7 linked regions of the Homo sapiens genome follow. The protein of the gene in region 3 interacts with the protein of the main gene of each other region in a biochemical or structural test. Each region holds a gene or a part of one and is shown on either strand. Other genes may lie near its edges. The genes, in order: ARHGEF11, APBA1, RAB9A, SNTG1, TJP2, PDZRN4 and GRID2IP.

What was found.
Region 1: the proteins of RAB9A (region 3) and ARHGEF11 interact in a test that uses a peptide from one of them, tested with the Homo sapiens proteins (one large-scale study listed by IntAct).
Region 2: the proteins of RAB9A (region 3) and APBA1 interact in a test that uses a peptide from one of them, tested with the Homo sapiens proteins (one large-scale study listed by IntAct).
Region 4: the proteins of RAB9A (region 3) and SNTG1 interact in a test that uses a peptide from one of them, tested with the Homo sapiens proteins (one large-scale study listed by IntAct).
Region 5: the proteins of RAB9A (region 3) and TJP2 interact in a test that uses a peptide from one of them, tested with the Homo sapiens proteins (one large-scale study listed by IntAct).
Region 6: the proteins of RAB9A (region 3) and PDZRN4 interact in a test that uses a peptide from one of them, tested with the Homo sapiens proteins (one large-scale study listed by IntAct).
Region 7: the proteins of RAB9A (region 3) and GRID2IP interact in a test that uses a peptide from one of them, tested with the Homo sapiens proteins (one large-scale study listed by IntAct).

The regions. Positions count from the first base shown.
Region 1 is NC_000001.11:156,944,743-156,948,242, forward strand, and holds part of ARHGEF11 (rho guanine nucleotide exchange factor 11), read right to left. Parts: intron 3,487-3,500; coding exon 3,439-3,486; intron 3,215-3,438; coding exon 3,027-3,214; intron 2,709-3,026; coding exon 2,562-2,708; intron 2,274-2,561; coding exon 2,194-2,273; intron 2,046-2,193; coding exon 1,920-2,045; intron 1,421-1,919; coding exon 1,303-1,420; intron 456-1,302; coding exon 277-455; intron 1-276. UniProt on the Homo sapiens protein: May play a role in the regulation of RhoA GTPase by guanine nucleotide-binding alpha-12 (GNA12) and alpha-13 (GNA13). Acts as guanine nucleotide exchange factor (GEF) for RhoA GTPase and may act as GTPase-activating protein (GAP) for GNA12 and GNA13.
Region 2 is NC_000009.12:69,515,372-69,518,871, forward strand, and holds part of APBA1 (amyloid-beta A4 precursor protein-binding family A member 1), read right to left. Parts: intron 1,909-3,500; 5' UTR 1,840-1,908; coding exon 640-1,839; intron 1-639. UniProt on the Homo sapiens protein: Putative function in synaptic vesicle exocytosis by binding to Munc18-1, an essential component of the synaptic vesicle exocytotic machinery. May modulate processing of the amyloid-beta precursor protein (APP) and hence formation of APP-beta.
Region 3 is NC_000023.11:13,706,128-13,708,565, reverse strand, and holds part of RAB9A (ras-related protein Rab-9A), read right to left. Parts: intron 1-2,438. UniProt on the Homo sapiens protein: The small GTPases Rab are key regulators of intracellular membrane trafficking, from the formation of transport vesicles to their fusion with membranes.
Region 4 is NC_000008.11:50,659,907-50,663,406, forward strand, and holds part of SNTG1 (gamma-1-syntrophin), read left to right. Parts: intron 1-3,500. UniProt on the Homo sapiens protein: Adapter protein that binds to and probably organizes the subcellular localization of a variety of proteins. May link various receptors to the actin cytoskeleton and the dystrophin glycoprotein complex.
Region 5 is NC_000009.12:69,177,277-69,180,776, forward strand, and holds part of TJP2 (tight junction protein 2), read left to right. Parts: intron 1-766; exon of another isoform or gene 767-853; intron 854-3,500. UniProt on the Homo sapiens protein: Plays a role in tight junctions and adherens junctions. Acts as a positive regulator of RANKL-induced osteoclast differentiation, potentially via mediating downstream transcriptional activity.
Region 6 is NC_000012.12:41,569,320-41,572,282, reverse strand, and holds part of PDZRN4 (PDZ domain-containing RING finger protein 4), read right to left. Parts: intron 1-2,963.
Region 7 is NC_000007.14:6,548,662-6,552,650, reverse strand, and holds the start of GRID2IP (delphilin), read left to right. Parts: upstream 1-1,189; 5' UTR 1,190-1,214; coding exon 1,215-1,643; intron 1,644-3,989.

The sequences.
Region 1 (3,500 bases), on a different chromosome or scaffold from region 3:
TCCCAGAAGATCTCCACCTTACCTCCAGTTCTACCCCATCCCCTGCTCTCTCAGGCTGAGTTCCAACATCTAGTCTTTCTTAGGTGGGGCGGCCTGCCTTGTCCATCTAGGGACAGGGTGACAATAGCAGGGTGTGTGTCTTCTGGGGCTCCATTGTGCCACCCTATCTGGTCTCTGTCTCCTACCTCTAAGACTCTCCAAGCCCTGACCAGTGTTCTGCTCCTAAGGGTACCCACAAAGTGTGAGGGGTTGACTGCTGCAGCCTCTGCCTCCTACCTTGAACTCTGCTGCCAGGGGGTTGCTGGCCCTCTCCAGGGCGGTGGCATCCAGGCGTTTCTGGTAGCCCTCTAAACGGTGGCGGTTCTCTGTTTGTTTTACCGCTTCATTCACATACTTGAGAATCTCCCGGCACTGGTCCCGGGCCCGGCACAGCTTCTCATGCTCAGAGGTGCCACCTACCAAAATGGACAGAAGAGATGGTTGGGGCTCCTGCCTGAGAAGTCCAACATGGCGCCAGCTGTTATCTGCCTATTCATCCATGGCAGCTGGCTTGCTTCAAACCAGCAGGCGTGGGTGGAGGGGAGCCACCCTTGCCTCACATGAGGACCCCAAGTGGTAAGGGTAACTTTTACTGAGCATCTTCAGGTCTCAGACAGATCACTGCTTTGAAGACGCTGATAGCTCCTGGGAATCCCTGCCTCTACTACAACCAGCTCTACAGATGCAAGGGACAGAGACTGTGGTAAATGGCCACAATTATGCCTCTAGAAAGCCTGTTCAAATCAGATTGGGGTTCCTAACACCTCTCTGTCCTGACTCCAATGTCTGAAATTTGGGGGTAGTGAAAGATGCCCAGGATCCCAGGGAGAGTGATAACCTGAGGCTAGACCCTCTTGTTCAGTCTGGTCCCCTGCCCCTCTAGTGTAACCACATAGGCTGTGTCTTTTGTGCACTGCAGGGGGCATGAATGGGGATAAAATCCAGCCCCATGCAACCAGAGGGACCCAGGTGCCCTTGAGTGCCAGCCTGTGTTGGGCACCGGATGCTTTCCTTGGATTTGCACAAAGGCCCACACAGGTGGCCTTCGATGGTGGCCCCTACTCCTCCCACTATTAAACACCTTATATTTTCCAAAGGACATTTACAATCATTTTCTTCTCTGAAACACCCCACAACAGAAAAAGGACGAAGACACCAAAGACCACAAGGCACAGTGACTTGCTAAGGTCACAAAGCAGTGTCAGAATGAGGGTCTGGCACGAGGCCCACTGCCTGTGATGCCAGCCCCTCCCCAGGTGCTACCCTCTGTGTGCTTGATGATGCTCTCCAGCAGCAGCGGGTACTTGGTGAGCCGCTGCATCTCAGAGATGATGAGGTCTCTCAGCTGCAGCCGCCGACACTGAGGGTGGCTCTCAGCCTCCTAGACAGCAGGAGACACAGAAGGGAGGAGATGTCAGCGTGGCTGGGAGCTGGCTTATGGGCTCAGGGCCAAGATGGGTGTGAACATGACAAACAGGTCCTAACGCCAGATGGATCACTCAGAAATGGCAGTGGAAGCTTCTTCCTTAAAGATGTAGAGAAGGGTGTGTGGTGGCAGGGAGACACCAATCCAAAGGGATATGGTCAAAACAGAAGGGCAGGCATATTGCTGCCATTCTATAGACAAGGAAACTGAGATCCATCTCAGGACACACAGGTGCTGGTGGGTGAGCCAGGCCTCTGACTGCTAATCCAGGATTCTTTCCAACAAACAGAAGTCTCTTTGTCTAGAGTGAGTCAGTGCTTTTGAGGAGCGTGTGTCGAAGGGTAGAGGGAGTTGCTGTAGACAGGGATGATGTGGCCAGAAGGAGAGAAGTTCAGGAGATCCTTGGTGACCTTGATGGAGATGAAGGAAGGCCAAGGCATGGCCAAGGACGCACCTGCATGAAGAGCTGGAATCGACTCTCCTTGCGTTGCTTGGTCTTGATTAGCTCTAGGGCTATTGACTGATAGGAACAGAACTGTGCAGCCACTTGCTGGAGTTCCTCTCGGGCAGGGCCATCAAACTGAAGAGGCAGAATGGACACGGGGCCAGGCATCAAACCCCTGCCTGGGACCAGACCCCTGCCTTTGCCAAATTCTCTGGCCTTGGGTAATGAGACCCTGCCTCCCCCAATCTCCTCCTTGCCAAGAGGGAGAAGTTTGGAGCCATACCCGGGCCAGCATGAGGTCACTGATCTCTTTGATGATGGGGCCTTCCTCCCGGAGCTTCTTCATGGCTTCACACCAGGAATCTGGGGCAGGAAGAGAACAAATAGAAATGCCTGGGGTTGAGCTCAACTGCCAGAACCTTTCTGACAGAGAGAAGTGAATCTCTGACAGCAGTGCCATGGGAAGGGTCTGGAAACCATTGTACTTTCGGGGTGAACTCCAGTGCTGGTTTCAGGCTGTCCACAGATCTTTTTCTCACCAGGGATTGGTGGGAGGTTACCTACTCAGGGAGGTCCTGGCAGTGGGGCCAAAGTGGAACAGGAAGCTGAAGGGCAGCAGAAGAGGAGTCTGGAGGGGCACAGGCTCCTTACTGTGAATCTCTATGAGTTCAGGCAGGTTCGGGAAGAGCCGGGCCAGCTCCTCCCGGGGCATCAGGTTCTCCTTCTTCATTCGCTGGTAGAAGATCAGGTCCAGGACCCGGAGTGTGCGCAGGTGGGAAGCTTCAGTCACAAACAGCTCTGAGCGGTGGTTGTGACAAGGAGGGTAGAAAGCCAGGGAGAAAACGGATCAGCAAGTATCTAGAGTCCCTGACCTGGTTCCCACACCACTCTATTTTTGGGGGAACTGAAGTGCCAGTTTCAGATCATACAGCAACTTTTCTCTTACTCCAAGGGCCAGAACTGAGGGGAACCTTATAGCAACAGGCAATGTGGACCTGCTCCAGCACACAGGGGCCCCCCACCCTATTTACCTCTTTCCCACCCTTGTGTCTTAGGCATTCTGGACCTATTCCCACACGTGTGAGCGGAGCTGGGGGCAGTGGAGCACGTTCTCACCATTGATGACCTCTTGCCGGTCAATCTCCCGCTGGGTTAGCCCAGCCACCACATCCTTGCCCACTGTATGCTGCCAATTTTGGGCATCTGGCTCTGGCTCCAGGTCAGACAGCTGGCCCAGATCATCCTCTAGGAGGTGGGGAAGGAGGGTATCTGTGCAGAACCCCAAACTGGGGGACTCAATGCTCCTGGGGGAAAACAGGCAGCTCAGCTTCATTTAGGAGGAAGAACTCACACAGAGGGTTTGGCCCTCCCTCTCCTGCCCGACCTGCTTGCCCCATGCACATGGGAAACCAGTGGGCCCAGAAGAGGAGACAGCCACCCAACCAGCCCCTTGCAGGTGAGAGGAGCAGCTGGGTGTGGATGGGACACAGAGACACCAAACAGAGGCACCACCGTGCCCATCACTTACCTGCGGCCCATTTTGGGAGTGAATGGAGGGGTTGGGTTCTCAAGAGACCTGTGGAGGGAATG
Region 2 (3,500 bases), on a different chromosome or scaffold from region 3:
AACATTCTCTGATCCACAGCACATTCAACTCCCACCCTTTTCATGCCACTTTCACATACCCTATTCTTTCTACTTGGCTACTCCTCCCTATAAAACAACTTCCCCCTTGTACCTAACTCTAGAGACCCTTAAAGATCTTAAGGTCAGAGGTTCTCATATGGCAACAGTCCTTCCTCCCTAAAACGAAACAGTATCTTTCTCCCCTTTGCAATAATCCTTTCCAGTGAAGTCTCTCCTTCCTCAAGCATGGCTTGTTTTTTATTTGGCATTAGAAATACAAATTCTCGGGCCCCACTCCATACTTTCTGAATCAGAAACTGGGGGGGGGGGGGGCGGGGGGTGGAGGGCGATGTACCCAATAATGCATTTCTCACAAGGTCTCCAGGCACAGTGTGGGAAGCACTGATTTGAGGCCATCCTGCTAAGAATCTGATGAGTGCATTCAACACTTTAATTCTCTCCCGCTGGCGTTTGACAGTTTAGGTGCAAGCTGTTTCTGAGGCTTACGGTGGAAAAGTTCTTAGCGTCCCCACAGACTACTTCCCGTAAAGTCACTACCCAAGGGCACACAAGGCCATGGGGCGCCATCTTCCCTCCCACCGCGTGGGGCCGAGGAAGCCCAAACCCGCACCTACTTACATCTCCGTCCATCGGCCTCTGGTCGTCACAGTCCCTGGTGGGGCTAATGTCCTGGCGCATGACCCAGATGGGCTCTTTGGGCTCGTCGGGGGTGTAAGGCGAACGGATGGTCCTGGTTTTCACCTCCTCGATGGCCTCCTTGATGTCCTTGATGGCCAGCGAGATGGCATCGCGCTTCTCCTTGCTGTACCGCTGCCCCGCCTCGCCGCCGCCCGCGGGGCCCACCGCCCGCTGCTGCCCCGCCGGCGCCTGCAGCCCGGGGCTGTCGGGGCGACCCCCGGCCGGGGTAGGGGGACGCTCCAGGTCCTGCTCGGCCTCAGGCATGTCCTCGGCTGCCTTGTCGAGGCTCTGCGAGCTCATGCTCTGCTTCACCTCGGCCACTATCTGGTCGATGTCCTCCTCCTGCTCGTAGCTGTCCATGCGCGGGTAGGGCGCGAACTCGGCCTCCTTCTCGGGGCTGTCGGACTCGCCGTCGGAGCGCTCGTCGTAATGGTGCAGCCGCGCGCCCAGGGCCTCCTGGCGGTACGCGGCCGCCTCGTCGCGCTCCTGCTCGTAGAGCCGCAGGCCGTCGCGTGCGTCCAGCTCGGGCGCGTCCCCTATCTCCTCGTACACGTGCTCCTGGAGGCCGCCGTAGTCGGCATAGGGCTCGGAGTAGGGCTCGTCCTCACCGCGGTGGAAGAGCCGGTGCGTGTAGACGTAGCCTGAGTAGGCCGCATTCATGGCTTCCTCGTGCTCCAGCGAGTGGAAGTGCAGGTGGTTGGGCAGCGCGCGGCGGTGCGTGGCCTCGGCGTGCTCGGCCTCTGCCTGCTCCGTGTACTCCTCGGCCTCGGGCCGGTACTGCACAGCATAGGCGCTCTCGTCCTCGGGGTCCTGCGCGCGCTCCGCATCGTAGCCGTCGCGGGCCGCGGCGATCACGTCGCCCTCGGCGGTGTCCGTGTGGTTGTGGAAGCCGCTCTCCGTGCTGGCTGAGCGCGCCAGGCATTCCCCGCGCTCCTCTTCCTCCTGGCCGAGCTGGGCGCGGAGGTCCTCGAGGGCTCGCCCGCGCTGGTGGCGGCCCACATAGTGCTGCTGCTGCGGCGGCTGCTGCTGTTCCTCTTCCACCTCGGGGTGCTCCAGGTCGGCCTCCACCGACTCGTTCACCTCCCCACCTGCCGCCTCGTCGGTCACCTCCACCTCCGCAGACCCCTCCAAGTGGTTCATGGTGGGAGTCGGAACGGCTAGGAGAGAAGCTGGGCCCGGCTCACTGCGCTCTCATTTTGCTCCACTGGGCTGGAAAAACAAGAAGGGGAGAGGCTGTCACGTGGTGCAAACAGTCGTTATGAGCTGAGTATTCAGATAACCATAAAAACAACTGCTATTGATTCCTTTTAGTTCTGGGTCAATTAAAAAAAGACTGCAAATTTAAGTTCAATCTGACAGCACATACATAGCACGCATCATAATTTGTAATTACATATCTACTTGTTTAATTGCTTATTGCCTTTCTCCGTTCCCACCCCTCACACTGAGCGCCTCAGGAACGTTTTGTTCTCCACCACGCATACGATTCAGGTCCCATTTCTGATGCATCTGAATAAAGAGTACTACTAAATTGAATGGGCCAACTGACACATTTTCCATCTGCTAACAGATAAATCTCTCCAAATTAAACTAGGATCCTACAACTTTAGAAATCACTCTTTACATCAATTTCAAAGAAACATAATCTTGAACACCTTTTGAAGCCATTCTGAGAGAGGCTATCAGCCAGCAGTGGGGTCCCGCCCCGGTTCTGTCATTACTGACTTTGTGACCTCAGGCAAGTGGCTTAATTTTCTGGACCTCCACGGTGTGACTGGACTCATTTCCTACATGCAGGATGTTAACAGCTATTATATAGGGTAAAAAAGACTCGGTGGTCAAGTAAGTTTGGAAAATGCTGAGTTACAGTTGACTTTTCATTGTTAATATCCAGAAGGAGGAAGATGCAGGACACAGGGTTTCCCTAACTTGTTTGACCAGGAGACACTTTTTCCTAGAGGCCAATGTTACATAGCAGCTGGTTTCTAATAGTTAGGCTTCCCTATTGCGCACTCAGCATCCAGGATACAACCAACCACGGAAGACAATATTAGGGGAAAATATCCAACACAATACAACAATAAAAAATAATGCAAGTAAAAATACAGTATAACAACAATTTATATAGCATTTATATTGTATTAGGTATTATGAGAAATCTAGAGATGATTTACAGTATATGGGAGGATGTGCATAGATCATATGCAAATACTATACCATTTTATAATGGATTTTTATATCCACTGGGGTCCTGAAACCAACCCCCATGGATACCAAGGGAGGACTATATTCACTTTCCCCATGTAACCTGAATCTAAAATTCTAAGATTTTATGAGTTGCCATTATAGCTAGAACTGGATAACAGGTGTAATTTTTTAAAAATATGGGTAGGTCTCTTTCTATTTTCAGAGAAACTTGTAGCTCGAGAGAAAGATTTGGTTTCAGTCTCTCTCAATTCTTCTTATCACAAAATAGCTTTATGGTATAATCTGTGCAGTATATAGAAATAGACACAAAGAATGTAAACAACCACAACAAAACAGGCAGGACCCCTATGATTTTGAGATCCCTATGGTAAATAGGCTCAACAGTATGTGTAAACTTGCTATTATGTTCTTTTGGAGAGCCTTTCTTACAAATGGACACAATGGATGGGAAGTGAACTCTTAAATATGATAACAGACAACCCCAGGAGGACCAGGGACATCTGATGGACTCTCTAGTAGTGAGATGCATTATATTCTACTCAACTCCCCATCACAACCACAGCAATTTCCTTCAAGCATTGATGACCATCCCA
Region 3 (2,438 bases):
GCTACTATTCTACCATTATTCTCTGAAACAGCTGGGAAGGGCTCACTCTTCCCTTTTCTCAGGTCACAGTTGACTGTGAAGCTGGCACTCAAGCCCAAGTCTGACCCCAAAGCCCTTGCTCTGAACCGTTACTCTATGATAAGCCCCTCTCTGCTCATAGTAAGCCCCACCATTTGTTAGAGATGGGTAGGAGACCAAAGTTCGCATGTTGTTGTTGTTGTTGTTTTGGTTTTGTTTTTTTTTTTGAGACAGGATCTCGCTGTCACCCAGGTTGGAGTGCATGGGACCATCTTGGCTTACTGCAGCCTTGAACTCCCAGGCTCAAGCAATCCTCCCACCTCAGCCTCCCAAGTAGCTGAAATCACAGGTGCACACCACCATGCCTTGCTAATTTTTCTATTTTTTTGTAGAGACAGGGTCTCAACCACGTTGCCCAGGCTGGCTTCAAACTCCTGGGCCCAAGCAATCCACCTGTCTTGGCCTCCCAAAGTGCTGGGACTACAGGCGTGAGACACCATGCCCAGCCCACATGTTTCTCTTAACAACTTCAAACAGCCCTTCAGTGCACAGTGATGGTGTTCACTTAAGGCCTCTCTCCTACCAGGGACTTTCTCTACTACTCCCTCCACCTCTCTTCAGACACAGGTGCTGTTAACCAGGAAAGCCAGAGACAGAAACTGACTTACCTGGCTGTGAAATAAAGTATGAACCAACCACTGAGTAAATGGACTTTATTCTCTTCATTAAGAACATTATTTTGAATTTGTTCAAATTAATGTCAGCAGCAATGGAATTTTTAATATAATCTAGCACATTCTATCCACAAGATTCACTTGGGCAGTTCAAACACTTAAGGAACATGAGACTGCTGCTACTTGTGTGTTTTCAGGTAGAATGAAATAAACCTTAAATGAAAATGTGGTACTATATGTGTTCTTTAGAAGTCCTGTGGCAGGATTAAAAACTTTACTACACTACAAGAGCCAGCCTGTGGGGGGTGAGATTTCAGATGCCCGTTGACAGACAGCTACTTCTAGGTGCTGGTGGGAGCACAGTTCCTGGTTAATCCTTCTGCTTACATTTTTATTGTGAAAAATGTAAAACATGTACAAAATTTCTATATAATGAGTACAATACAATGAGCTCCCATGAACTCTAAACCCAGCTTCACAATTATCAACTTATGGCAAATCTTGTTTCCTCCATAACCCCTCCAACTCTCCCTTCTCCCCAGTTATTTCGAATCAGATTATATCATTTAATCTGTACTTTAGTATTAAATGGTTTTTAAGTATACTAAAATGTATATAAGAAGATAACTATTAGAGCAGCACTGTACAAGAGAATTTTATGCAACAATGGAAATGTCCAATATAGCAGCCACTTAGCCGCATGTGACTGTGGAACACTTGACATGAGGCTGATGGAAGTGAAAAACCGCATTTTAAATTTTATTCAATTTTAAATAAATAGCCACATTTAATGAGCCAATTGGAGAGCACAGATCTAGAGCAAATTTGGTCAATAACCTTAATAGGAAAGTAGGTATTATGAATCCCTCCATGGGAAGGCAATAAAGACATGAACAATAATTGTTATATTGACCAGGATGAATTTGTAAAATCACTGCAGTAAACATTATCTGGCTGTCTCCTGGTTATATGCAATGTGAGCAACTATAGTGTAACTGAACACTTACTGTAACATGTAGGAATTCTGCACTTCTAGCCACATGCTCCACTGTTCTGATAAAAACCTTGTAGTGGCTTGTATAGTGAGAAATCAAGTGAATGGGAAATACTATTAAAAAATGATGGGACATACCTTAGTCCCTACCTCTTACTGGTTCTTTCAAATTACTACTACAGGCCAGGCACGATGGCTCACACCTGTAATCCCAGCACTTGGGGAGGCTGAGGCGGGCAGGTCACTTGAGGTCAGGAGTTCGAGACCAGCCTGGCCAACATGGTGAAACCCCGTCTCTACTAAAAATACAAAAAAAAAAAAAAAATTAGCTGGACGTGGTGGCAAGCGCCTGTAGTCCCAGGTACTAGGCTGAGGCAGGAGAATCCCTTGAACCTGGGAGGCGTAGGTTGCCGTGAGCTGAGATTGCACCACTGCACTCCAGCCTAGGTGACAAAGCAAGACTCCATCTCAAAAAACAAAACAAATTAATACTACAGTAATTACTACTATAATTAATATTAATACAATTTAAACTGTCCAACACAAGTGTGTGGCAGTTAAGGTGCATACCTTTTGAGAGACTTTTTCAATTTCAAATGTATTGCTCAATATCCAGACTATTAATGTTAAAGAGGAAACTGCAACAGTCCCAAGCCCCTTACTTTCCTGACATAGGTAACAATGTGCTAAATTGGCTGCTTTAATTCTTTGGCATCTTGCTTCAACAACTTAAAAAGAAAAGATTGAAAACC
Region 4 (3,500 bases), on a different chromosome or scaffold from region 3:
TCGGCTCACTGCAACCTCCACCTCCCAGGTTCAAGCAACTCTCCTGCCTCAGCCTCCTGAGTAGCTGGGACTACAGGCACATGCCACCATGCCCAGCTAACTTTTTGCATTTTAGTAGAGACAGGGTTTCCCCATGTTGCCCAAGCTGGTCTTGAACTCCTGAGCTCAGGCAATCTGCCTACCTCCGCCTCCCAAAGTGTTAGGATTACAGGCATGAGCCACCGCGCCAGGGCGAACTGTGTATTTTTAGGAAAGCTACTCATGTAATTAGGGGAAGAAAAGAAAGAAAGAAAAGAAAAGAAGGAAAAGAAAAGAAGAAAAGAAAAGGAAAGAAGGAAGGAAAGAAGGAGGGAAGGAGAGAGAGAGAGAAAGAAGGAAAGAAGAAAGAAAGAGAAAGAAAGAGAGACAGTAAGAAGGAAAGAAGAAAGAAAGAAAGAGAAAGAAAGAAAGAAAGAGAGAGAGAGAAAGAAGGAAGGAAGGAAGGAAGAAAAAGAGAAAGAAAGAAAAGAAAGAAAGAAAGAAGAAAGAAAGAAAGAGAAAAAAGAAAGGGAGGAAGGGCAGGGAGTGCACAGAGGGGAGAAAGGAAAGAAGGAAGGAGAAGGAAGGGAGGGAGGGAGGGAGAAGGAAGGAAGGAAAGAAAACTGCCTCAACAAATCAACTTTGTCTATTCTCTATCTGTACACTAATACAACTTTTATCATAGTAATAACGCAACACATATTTATATATTCTTACTTAGACTTAAATTATTTTCTAACCACTCTCCAAGTAGCTGCATGATCTTTTAAATCCTCTCTTTTAAAAAAAGCTATTTAAACATTAGAACATAATGCAGTTTACTATAGTAGTTAAAAAGGATAATTTTAAAGGAAATAATAAACATTATGTTTAGCTCTATCAAGATATACAAACAATATGTTCTATCTCTTTGTTACAATTTTTGACAAAGATTATGCAATTCATGATCTGCTATTTTGTGTAAAAATATGTCTTGAGATTTTTTTCTATGACAGTTAATGTTCCTTAAAAACACTGATAACTTTTTGATAGATTTCATCTATCCCATCATTTGCTTGTATTCATTGAGTCCACTTTAAAATTTTACATTTAGTTTTTTCCCCCACTTGTTATTGCTATCAGGCATATCACAACAATCATTATTTGAATGGTTTAATAGAAAATTAAATGTTTGCTATATACCAGGTAACCTCAGCACTTGTTATGTGGCTGAGAAAAATGCAGAAAAAGCCACTGCTTTCATTGAGCTTGCATTTTATTAGGTGATATGATGTTAAGTAAATCAATAAAGAAGACAAAAATAGTAAGTAAATAAATGAGACAAAATAATAATATGTAGGAAGGACTGATATTTGCTCAGACTTTTATGCAAATTCTTATTTCCTTTAGTCTAAATTCTGAGCTTTGGAAACCCCATGTGGAAAAATATTTTAATGTATTCAAGATATTAAATCCATGTGTACAAATTGCCTCCTACAAGTCATCTTAACTTATGCGGCCATCAGAAGTGTCTATGAGAGTGCCTGTATATTTACATTCTGACCAAATTAAAATCAAAGACTACTTCTCATTTTAACTTTCTATATACAATTTTCTATAAGCCTTAGTTTACTTGAATTTTTTTAATACTTCAAGTTCTGGGATACATGTGCAGAACGTACAGTTTTGTTACGTAGGTATACATGTACCATGGTGGTTTGCTGCACCTATCCACCCATCATCTAGGTTTTAGGCCCTGCATGTATTAGGTATTTGTCCTAATGATGTCTCTCCCCTTGCCCCCAACCTCCCAACAGGCCCTGGTGTGTGATGTTCTACTTGGGAAAATGTTTACATAGGTTAGTGAGGCCTGGCGATAAGTATTCTCATACATCAAATACAATGTAAATCTACCTTCAATTGTTGTATGTAATCAAGGAAGTCCCCCTCCCCTTAGTAAGTACAATGCTGGTGCTTTATGCTTTGTGGCTTGACATTAGACATATAAAGCCATCCTTCAAGCATTCCTTTTCCCAAAGGAAAATTTCATGTAGCATGAGAACAGAGGAGTGGCTTCTAGATTCGATGCTAATGGATTATTTTCCTGCATGCAGATTACCTTCTGGCCTTCTCCTGTGTCAGGATCACTGGTTGATAAGGAAGCCAGTCAGATAGGTGGGGCAGGTGAGCAAATAAGAAGGGGCATCTTCTACAGCCTAAATCAGAGGGGGAGTCTTCTACAGCCCAGCCCTCTCCTGCCATGAGGTATCACTTCTGATGCAAGCTGTGCAAGTTGTAGACTTCTGCCTCCAGAAAATGGATCCCTCAGGTGAGGCTAATTAAAAGTCAGATTTGAATGTCTGGATCACAGAAGAACTTGCCTGTGACCATTAATCAGGAAAATCCTGTCCCTTCTGATGTGTTCATAATGAAGCTACACCAGTAATAACAAAAATGAAGCAATAAGGTTTATCTGGTACATATAGTTTATATGTATGTGCCAGGTGTTGTCCTAAGTGCTTAGTATATGAATTCAGTTTGTATTTACAGCACCACTATCTGTCAGTTATTGTTATTCCCATTTTAGAGATTTGGAAACTGAGGCAAAAAGCAGTTTAAGTAAATAGCCTAAGGTCACACAGCTAGTAAATATCAGAGCTAAAGATATGAATCTTGCAATGTGTCAAAATTCTGTGCTCTTGCACATGATACTACACTGTCTCTGTCTCTCAGCGTAAATATTGATAATTTGGGAAAAAAGATGGGAACCAGAGAGCCAGCCTGGTACTGATGAGAGAGCAAAGGTTTCAGAAAAAGGAATTTGGCAACAAATGCCACTTCTGTTACTAAAACATTACCCTTTATGAGTGTATTGGGCACTATGAACTTCAGTTCTTCATCTGTGAAATGCAGCTATGGATGCAGAGGGTGCTGTGAAGATTAGGAATTGGTTAACTGATTTGTGAATGCATTTTTGTCTGTTAATTCATATCAGTTACTTCGAGTACCTTCTATGTGCCAAGCACTCCACTAGGTATTAAGGATAAATACAACAGTATAAGAGAGTTGAACTCACAAAAATTCCAGCTGATGAAGGAGTTTAGGAAGGGCATTTTGGAGGAGGCTTTTAATGAACTGAAACCTAAGTGACTGTGAAAGGGCTCCACAGAGGAAGATGTGTCATGGCAGGGGTTGGAGTCCAGCCAGTAGGAGGGGAGGAGCAACCTGGTCCAAGGAATAATGTATAAACTTGCCCAGAGCTACAAAGAAGTATGTGTCCCTTCAACAAGGCAAACAAGTTTGTTACAGCTGTAGTCATCTTGGGTATGAGGTTGGTGTTGGTGTTTGGATGGAACAGATCATAGGAAAAGGCCTTAATAAAGCACATGAACTTTATCTGAGGAACAAAGGACAGCCACTAAAGCATGTCAAGCATAGGGAGGGACTGAGGTTGCCCATTTAAAAATCCTCTTCGAATGCAACGTGAGATGGAGATGAAGGGG
Region 5 (3,500 bases), on a different chromosome or scaffold from region 3:
GGGAAGCAGAACAGTTTTCTCTGGTGTTTTACTGAGTTTTTGTCTTGATCCTAAATCCAAGGGTTAGGGTCAGAAACACAGACTCAGAGGTTAGATTTAACACCCATTTAGTGGGTTAAACACATCAATGGTTATGTGAACTTTGTTAAGGTTTAAAAAGCTATTTAGGGCCTGTTTCTCCCTCATAGGAATTTTTGCAATCAGCCTTTTTAGTAGATGCCCATATAGAAAGTGAATTTGGGAGGGTCTAAGGTGGTATTACTATTAAACTTTTTGAAAAGGCTGTGTGATAGCAATGGAAAAAAAAATTCAGGCATGGAAATCCAATATGCAGTATTGCAGTAGCTAGTTTTAATTTTATTTTTGTTTTTTTGGTTTTTTTTTTGGAGATGGAGTCTTGCTCTGTTGCCCAGGCTGAAGTGTGGTGGTGCGGTCTTGGCTCACTGCAACCTCTGCCTCCCGGGTTCAAGCGGTTCTCTTGCTTCAGCCTTCAAAGTAGCTGGGATTACAGAAGTGAGCCACCGTGCCCGGCCACTAGTTTTAATTTTGGATGGTACCTAGGAAAGCAGTTGAGCTAGTATGCTGCATACATTGTAGTGTGAGAGGCAGAGTTCCGAGTTGGAGAGTGTCTGCTTCCACTTTTTCCATTTGATTAGGAAAAGCACTTCTTAGAACTGGGTGACTGACAGCTAGAGCCCCAGAAGACCTGCACAAGCTGGGGCAATGGCTACCCATAACAGTGACGGCTCCATTCTGTTTTTTAAAGGGATTGGTGTCTCTATCATCCAGCTGGCCATTAAACAACCAAAGCTTCATCATCCTAGATAACCTGTGAGCTCTCAGAGGAGACAGAGTAAGGACTATCATACCCCCAAAATACCTAATCATTTAATAAAGCATTTTCTCTACCTTTTATGCTATCCCAAAACAGTGCTTTCCAAAGTCTGGTATACAGACAGACTTACAGGTGGTGCAGAGAGATACATATTCTATTTTTCAATTATGATGCATGAATATTATATGTTAGGAATAAAAACAGAAAACCAGCTACCACATCCATTTATTTCATGGCTAGATTGCTTAGAATGAGGCAAAAATAAATATTAAGTAAAGCAGTGAGTTTGCTTTAAGAAAAATTATCAACTCTGGGAATGAGTAATATGAGGCTAAGGCAAAAATGGTAAAGCTAGCCCTTGACATCTGAGGTGTGCATAATACTGCTTAAAATATGAGTGTGGTGCTTACTTATAGAGAGCCTGGTATACCTTGACCACGCCTTCAAGAAAGTCAAACACAGAATGGCCCAGAATAGCCAGGAAAGTTGAATTTGATGGACTTTCTGTCTTAAGCGTGTGCATCCTGCTCTTATCCACTCAGATCTCTTAGATGTGGTTGCAGACAGTGTATTTGTAGAGCTAGCTGTTTGTTTTAACGTCTGGCCCAATTCTCATTCCTTTCTCTGCTTCCACAAGCCATTCTGCAGTTTTTAAAGGTCTGTTGGTATGATATTTTTGATATGATAGAGTGATAGGGGAGGAAGTATTTTGACACTGATGAAGGACATCACTGTATTATCAAGTGACTCTTGCTCATGATTCATTGCCGAAGAATGTGGACAGCCAAACAGCCTCACCTGTAAATGCATTTAATTTCTCAAAGTCTTTCAGAAGAATGCCAACTGGATGAGTTTTTTTTTCTTATTTTTTTTTTAATATGAAGCTTGTATTGGTCTGTAAAATAGGCTTTAACAAGGATTTTCGTAGGAACAGGAAGCCTTGAGGTAGAAAACAAGTATCCCTGCTTTGACCTAGAGAGATGCATGCTCATGGCAGGCGAATGAATCAAGGAGAAGAGAAAATACTGTTTCAGTAGACTCTCTAGTGATGTGTGTGTTCACACCATTTATGAGAAATCCTAAGCTTTCAATTAGTAACTTGTACTTTAGTCATTTAAAATCAGCACAGATGTTTGTTTAGTGCCTCTGCCAGATGGTTAAAGTTAAATCAGGTTTTTTAACCTGAAAAACGTAATGTAGCTTTCCTTAACCATTTACACACCATTGTATATTGCAGACCATAGTCAGATACATTTTGTTATAATGAATGTTTATTTTACCTTTTAGCTCAATTAGAATATCAGTGGTTATGGTTTCTATTTTGTTTTCCTACAGTTACTGTATGGGGGTGCAGTAACAGCGGTGGTGGTGAAAGTAAGTTACTTTTTTCTTTTTCTTTCTTTTTTTTTTTTTTTGAGACGGAGTCTCCCTCTGTCGCCCAGGCTGGAATGCAGTGGTGCGATCTCGGCTCACTGCAAGCTCCACCTCCCGGGTTCACGCCATTCAGCCTCCCCAGTAGCTGGGACTACAGGCGCCCGCCACCACGCCCGGCTAATTTTTTGTATTTTTAGTAGAGACGGGGTTTCACCATGTTAGCCAGGATGGTCTTGATCTCCTGACCTCGTGATCCACCCGCCTCGGCCTCCCAAAGTGCTGGGATTAGAGGTGTGAGCCACCGCGCCCGGCTGAAAGTGAATCTCTTAATGGATCTTCCATGAATCAAATATTTGTGTTTTAGTAAGTTAGGCTGACCAAAAGATTTCGAATCATACCTTTAATCATGGCAAGGATCTTATGTCACATTCTTGAGTACACATGTTCACTAAATTTTACCTATATGTGTATGTGAACATGGACTTCAGAATTAATTAGTGTGGTAATTATTATTTCTATTGTAGACTTTAATCAGCCATATTAAATATATGCATTATGTTCACAGAGAAAACATGGTATCATCTTTGGAAACTTTACAGTATGCTCTATATTATAGATACCCTATATAACTATGGTACTAAACACACGAGTTAGTGACAAGTCAGGCATTTGGAGGGAATGTTTGTAACCCATTGTGGGAGAGAGTTATTAGAATAGTTATTCTTACTGGTAGGTAACAGTTATGGCTGTAATGAATAGAATGTGACTAAAATCCAGTTATGCCTTTGCCATCGTATTAAAAGCTTTGGTGGAGACGTGAGAACATTGCAGATACTTTGGATTTTGTCACTTGAGTTGAAGGTAAACAGAGAAAACAGTACTTTCTAGTCATCAGTAGGAATTAACTCTTCCAGGACATGTAGCTTCAAGGACCTTCTAGGTTCTTCTGAGGGGGAAATAATGTTCCACTTGGGGCCATTTTTTTCCATTTGTTGAGAGTCATTTGTTTTCAGAGTATTAAAGGAAGTGTTCCGAGTTCTAGGTTGTGTTTCTTTGATGCCTACTAAAGCTGAGCACACCTGAGACCCTGGGTGGAGCTCTACAATGGGAATAGGAGTAAGTAATGTAGGCTTCGAGAGACAATCATTCTGCTCTCAGTCCTTGGAAGACTGTTCCTAGGTATATATGGCAAAGCAGATGAAATTATTTGAGGGAATTAATTAGCAAAACTAAACATTTCTGTTTTTGAAAGGAATGAATCATTTGGAAGGAACTTCCTGGTGAGCTCAGT
Region 6 (2,963 bases), on a different chromosome or scaffold from region 3:
ATGTTTCCTGGCAAAGTTGCATCTCCTAGACAGTTGCTCTAATTTAGGGTCCATCACAATTTTAGAAATAAAGGAAATTAGCTCATGGCAGCTTTTTATACAATGAAATGAAGAAAACAAAACCCGCTTGAATATGGCTATGATATTCACATGGATATAAATAAGACAGAATGCATTCAAATAAGTGATTCTTTAGGTTTTCTCTTACTTGGGAAACTCGGGGTTGAAGGTGTATAAACAAAGTGACTGTATGAATTTCTGAGGTGATAATATGCAAAAGAATAAGACAGAATGTCTAAATAGTCTTCAGCAATATGGAGACCTGATGTTCAGAAGCCACAATCACCTTATGTTTTTCCCCTTAAGTACAGAGGAAACTTCACTGGCTTAGTAATATGCTGACAATGGGTAAGCCAAACATCACAGAGTTTTAGGACTAAGTTAACATTATGTACTGGAGCCTAGGACATTGCTATCTATAGGTGAGGATGCTCAATTCCAAAAGGATTCAGGTTATTAGTGGCAGATTCAGGTTATTAATGACAGATGGAGGCAAAGCTTCATCTTCCAGTGCCAGAATTTCTTATATGTCCAGGATGCCATATTCCTGAATACATGTGCTCTGACCTCAGTGCACTCTAAATCATGTTTCTCAAAAGCAACAACAATGTTTTAGGACTCATTGGGGTTGTATAAGATTTTTCTACTCTTAACCAGGGATTTTTTTTCAAAGATAAATTTTAGTCTATTGAGAATAAAAATTCAGTCCCATGAAAATTTGAACAGCACTGATTGCCAGACATGGGCATAATATCAAAAAAATTTTGACACTTATGTCACATATATGTATATAGGCATGCATGTATGTTTATGTAGTGTGTGTGTGTGTGTGTGTGTGTGTGTGTGAGAGAGAGAGAGAGAGAGAGAGAGAGAGAGAGAGAGAGAGACTCTGGTAATTTTTGGCTTTCATGTAAAACAATTAACTGTAACTGTCCTAATAAGATGCATGTGTAGTTCTTTCTCTGTGAATATGGTAAAGTTACTTTCACCTCTATCAGTCATCATATGATAATCTATAAGGCAGTTTCTAGGTTATATCTGCCTTATGCCTAAGTTTATTCACTATATATATATATAGATAGATAGATAGGTATAGATATAGCTCCATCCCTCTAGAAGATGTAATTACACAATTAAATATAATCAAGCCAACAGCTAGTGCTAAAGAAGGATAGAACGGGTGACAAAAGATATTCTAAAAGAAGTCTAAAAAGGTCTCTCTAGATAATTGTTATTTTGTTCCACAAAAGTAGTGGCAGGATAAAAAGTAACAATATCAAGAGGAGAGAACATAACCATGTATCAGCTTTTCTATGACTCTCAATCTTTCTTTCCCTGGAACATGTTCCTTCATTTGTTGAAAACATACTGAGATTTATCTTAAATGTCTTATTGATTAAAAAATTATAATAAGTAACTGTAACGAACAATGGGAAGCTTGCTGCATCCCTAGGCTGTGACTTATAAGGTGACAATAGTATTTAATATGGCAATGTCTTTATACTACACCATATAACTCTCAAAGAATGTTATTGATACTGGGCATTTGAATTTATATATCGTGTTATTTATAATTATATTTTTCTAATATCTTGTCATGAGCTGAAAAATACAAGAAGACTAGTAATTTTTTTCTTATTTTACATGCAGATGACATAATAATGACAAATTATGCTATGGGAGATGTTGCACAATGTAACGGCATTCATAAGACCAAACATACTGTGTAAAATGAAACTTTCCATAAAGTAGGTTCACATATGGGTAGGTATTTTATTTTTTCAATTGAATATCCCCTTTCCCTTGTTATTGGTCTATGAACAACTGTGAAAATAAAATAGTTTTCTATTCTCAAACCTAGAATTCCTAGTTTCTAATGCAATGCTACTCTATCATTTATCATTTCCCTATGGAATTATTATAGTGACAGGCAATGTTTCTACCTAGACATTTCTAATGTAGTATTATTGTTTATAAGGGCAAAGGACTTTTAAAGGTTTCTGTACTTCTCACCATTTTTTAGTCTCATGGTGAAGAAAAAAATTCCACACAATGAGAATCTAACCTCAGAGGCATCTAGTGTTACCTCACGAGACCTAACATTTGTATTACCTCTGATGAGTAGGCAGCGTTTGACACCGTTGTCACTTTACCTGGACAGGATTTCTCCCTGCTTTCCTTATTCCAACATCCTCCTATCAATTCAGTATCAGGTCACATTTTGTATCTAAGAAAAAAAAAGCCTGGAGCAAGGACTTTCTTGCTTGTAACCAGCAGCTGCCACCAAAAATATCTTTATTTTTGGCCAGTGTTGAAGTTATACATAAAAATTTTAATCTGCCCTACCTATATTGAAAGACAGTCACCACAGTAGCGATATTACTTGTGAGCATGAAATTCTGTTTGTGGAGTGGCCAAACTCCACATAATGAGCACATGAGTATATCACATATGACTATGTTGATGCTATAGTGTGCAATCTAATTATTTATTTAATATGTGGACATGTGCACACACATACACATTTCTGTTATGGGATGTTAGCAAGCTGAATATTTCATTATTCAACATGGTAAAGTGATAGAATGTTTGTGCTGCAAGTTTCTAAGCCTGTCAAGATTTTCAAAAAAATTATCATCTTTTAAGATGTGTTAAGAATTAATGTTGAGGCCAGGTGCAGTGGCTCATGCCTGCAATCCCAACACTTTAGGAGGCTGAGGCTGGTGGAGCACTTGAGGTCAGGAGTTCGAGGCCAGCCTGGTCAACATGGTGAAACCCCATCTCTACTAAAAATACAAAAATTAGCTGGGTGTGGTGGTGGGATCCTGTAATCCCAGCACTTTAAGAAGCTGAGGCTGGTGGACCACTTGAGGTCAGGAGTTCGAGAACAGCCTGATCAACAT
Region 7 (3,989 bases), on a different chromosome or scaffold from region 3:
GCAGGTGGATCACCTGAGGTCAGGAGTTGGAGACCAGCCTGGCCAATATGGTGAAACCCTGTCTCTACTAAAAATACAAAAAGTAGCCGCGCATGGTGGTGGACACCTGTAATCCCAGCTATTCGGGAGGCTGAGGCAGGAGAATCGCTTGAACCCAGGAGTCAGAGGTTGCAGTGAGCCGAGATCACACCACTGCACTCCAGCCTGGGTGACAGAACAAGACTCTGTCTCAAAAATAAAATAAAATAAAATAAATGCCCAAAGATATGAATGGTCTCTGAGGGACCATTCTGCTCCAACATTCTGGACTTCCGTAAGTTTGTGATTCATGCCAGATCCCGAAAGGGAATTTTGGTAGATGGAGAGGGGTAAGAAGAGGGATTAAAGTGTAGGGAGTGAGGAGGGCCCATGGAAGCCAAGTGTACATGTAAGACAGTAAAACAGACCTGTGGAAGCAGGAGGGGCCCATGGAAAAGGATGTGGCCGCATTGGTTAAAAATCCAAGGCACTCAAAAGAAGACTTTAAGGAAGGGCCATTTTTCTTTTACACCCCCTCCCCAATTTTGTTTTTAGTAAAAACAAACAAACAAACAAACAAAAAACAAAAAAACAAGCCAGGCATGATGGTTCATGCCTGTAATCCTAGCACTTTGAGAGGCCAAGCAGGCAGATCACCTGAGGCCAGGAGTTCAAGACCAGCCTGGGTAACATAGTGAAACCCTGTCTCTACTAAAAATACAACAATTAGGCAAGCCAGGCACGGTGGCTCACGCCTGTAATCCCAGCATTTTGGGAGGCCAAGGCAGGCAGATCACCTAAGGTCAGGAGTTCGAGACCAGCCTGACCAACATGGAGAAACCCCGTCTCTACTAAAAATACAAAATTAGCCAGGCTTGGTGGCACATGCCTGTAATCCCAGCTTCTCAGGAGGCTGAGGCAGGAGAATCATTTGAACCCAGTAAGCGGAGGTTGCGGTGAGCTGAGATCACGCCATTGCACTCCAGCCTGGGCAACAAGAGCGAAACTCTGTCTTAAAAAAACAAAAACAAAACAAAACAAAAAAACATAGATGGAAGGGAATTGAGACAAAGACGGAGTCAGAGGGAGGAGGCAGAGATAAGTAGAGGCCTTCAGTGGCCCTGGGCCTTTGAGTGGCTTTGGAGCCATGGACAGAGCAGCAAGGAAATCCCTGTTCTGTCTCCAGTTCTAGGTGCATGGCCACCACTGCCACGCCGGCCACGAACCAGGGCTGGCCAGAGGACTTTGGCTTCCGGCTAGGTGGCTCTGGCCCCTGCTTCGTCCTGGAGGTGGCCAAGGGGAGCAGCGCGCATGCCGGAGGACTGCGGCCAGGAGACCAGATCCTGGAGGTGGAGGGGCTGGCGGTGGGCGGTCTGAGCCGCGAGCGCCTCGTGCGCCTGGCACGGCGCTGCCCACGTGTGCCGCCCAGTCTGGGCGTGCTCCCGGCTCCCGACGGTGGCCCCGGCCCAGGATCCGGCCCCGCGGCCCCGACCACAGTCTTGCGGGCCCCGCGGTGCGGCCGCGGCCTAGCTCTGGGCCGTGAGCTGCTTCGCCTGGCCGGCCGCAAGCGCCCGGACGCGGTGCACCGAGAGCGCAGGCGCAAGGCCCAAGAGTTCAGCCGCAAGGTAAGGCGCGGGGGTGGGAGGTGGGGGCGGGAAGGAGGGGGCTCATAATGTGGGCAGGGAGTGGGCCGGGCGCCGCTCTCCCAGGGCCAGAGGTAAGGAAACTTCTGGGGTCAGATTTAACAGAAATATGGGAATGCTCAACTTCAAAACCTTGCAAACAATTTTGCATTTTTTTTTTTTGAGACAGAGTCTCGCTCTGTCACCCAAGCTGGAGTGCAGTGGCCAGGTCTTGGCTCAGTACAACCTCTGCCTCCCAAGTTCAAGTGATTCTCCTGCCTCAGTCTTCCAGTAATTGAGATTACAGGCGTTTGCCACCACACCCAGCTAATTTTTTTTTTTTTTTTTTTTTTGGTATTTTTAGTAGAGACGGGGTTTCACCATGTTGGTCAGTCTGGTCTCAAACTCCTGACCTCAAGTGATCTGCCCACCTCTGCCTCCCAAAGTGCTGGGATTACAGGCATGAGCCACTGCGCCCGGCCTAATTTTGCAATTTTTATTCACTTGTGTTTCTTTTTTATTAAGGTACTATAGGTGTAAAGTGCATTAAGTGTGCAGCTCAATAAATTTTCCATATACATGCACCCTTGAATAACCACCCTCTTGATCAATATATAAAATAATAGGATATAGATAAAAATATAATGTAGACTATAGAATAATTGACACCAGAATGTTCCCACGTGCCCCTTTCTCTGTCTATCCTCCCCATTAGAACTTAACTGCAGGCCAGGTGCTAGATGTAATCCTAGCATTTTAGGAGACCAAGGTGGGAGGATCACTTGAGACCCTGAGTTCAAGGCCAGCCTGGGCAACGTAATGAGACACCATCTCTACAAAAAAAATCAAAAACTAGCTTGGCATGGTGGTGCATGCCTTATAGTCCCAGATACTCAGGAGACTGAGGCAGGAAGATCGCTTCAGCCTGGGAGTTTGAGGCTGCAGTGAGCCATGACTGCACCACTGCATTCCAGCCTGGGTAACGGAGTGAGACCGCATCTCTAAAATAAAAAGATAAAATAAAAAGAGCCACAGATATCGCTTCTTGGCCCTTCATCTAAGATCAAGTGTAAAAGAGCCAGTGGGGTGAGGTGGCTCACGCCTGTAATCCCAGCACTTTGGGAGGCTGAGGAGGGCTGATGACTTGAACTCAGGAGTTTGAGACCAGCCTGGGCAATGTGGTGAAATCCCATCACTATCAAAAATATAAAAAAAAAAAAAACCAGCCAGGTGTGGTGGCGCGCGCCTGTGGTGCCAGATACTCAAGGGTGTTGAGGTGGGAGGATTACTTGAGCTTGGGAGACGGAGGTTGCAGTGAGCTGAGATCATGCTACTGCACTGCAGCCTGAGTGACAGAGTGAGACTCCATTCCCCTCCCCGCCATTCCCCACCTCCAAAAAAATGTAAAAGAATTCCGCCTGTTCTAAGCCCCCACAAAACCAGGATTAGACCTGCCCTTGCACAGCGGCCTGGCTGGCTTGTTGGCTGCAGGAGGCCCTAGTTTGGCTTCACCAATCTGCCAAAGGCATTTCCTCTTGACTTTGGCACAAACCAGGCTGTGATAGACTGCAGGTGGAATATTAGCGTGGTCCTGAAGATTAAGAATGAGGAGCCTGGAATGGATCAGACCTCTAGCCACAAGAAGAACCCAAGGCCTGAGTCACCTGCAGGAAGTAGGGTGTGGCCACAAGCCAAGATGGAGGCACCATTTAGAGACCCAGGGCTGGGATGGAAAGAGGGAGGATAGAGTCGGTCTCAGGCCTGAATCCCAAGCAACCCCTGATTTGCAGGAACCTGCCATTTACTGGACAGATCCAGGCAATTCCAAGAAACCTGGGACGTGACATGGTTATAAAAGAAGAAGCTGCCTAGTATGGTTACAGCTACCCCAGGCCACTGACTAGGTCCCAGTACAGCAACCTCCCATGCCATTCACCTTCACTCCTGTCCTCCAGGGCTTTCAGATGGGGTCCTAAGGCCTTTATTTCACTAATACTTGAATGGAACAAAAAGTGATCCTGTGTGCGACTAGGAAATAGTCCGGAGCCAAGACACTCAGTCCCTACCCCTGCCTGGCTATCGGACCCCTGTGGACATGAAGCCTGGAAACTCAGTATTTGCTTGGCGGCTGGGACACTTAAGCTCATAGACTTTTTTTTTTTTTTTTTTGAGGCAGAGTCTCGCTCTGTCACCCAGGCTGGAGTGCAGTGGTGTGATCTCGGCTCACTGCAACCTCCACCTCCTGGGTTCAAGTGATTCTCCTGCCTCAGCCTCCCGCGTAGCTGGGATTACAGGCGTACCCCACCATGGCCAGCTATTTTTTTTTTCTGTATTCTTAGTAGAGATGGG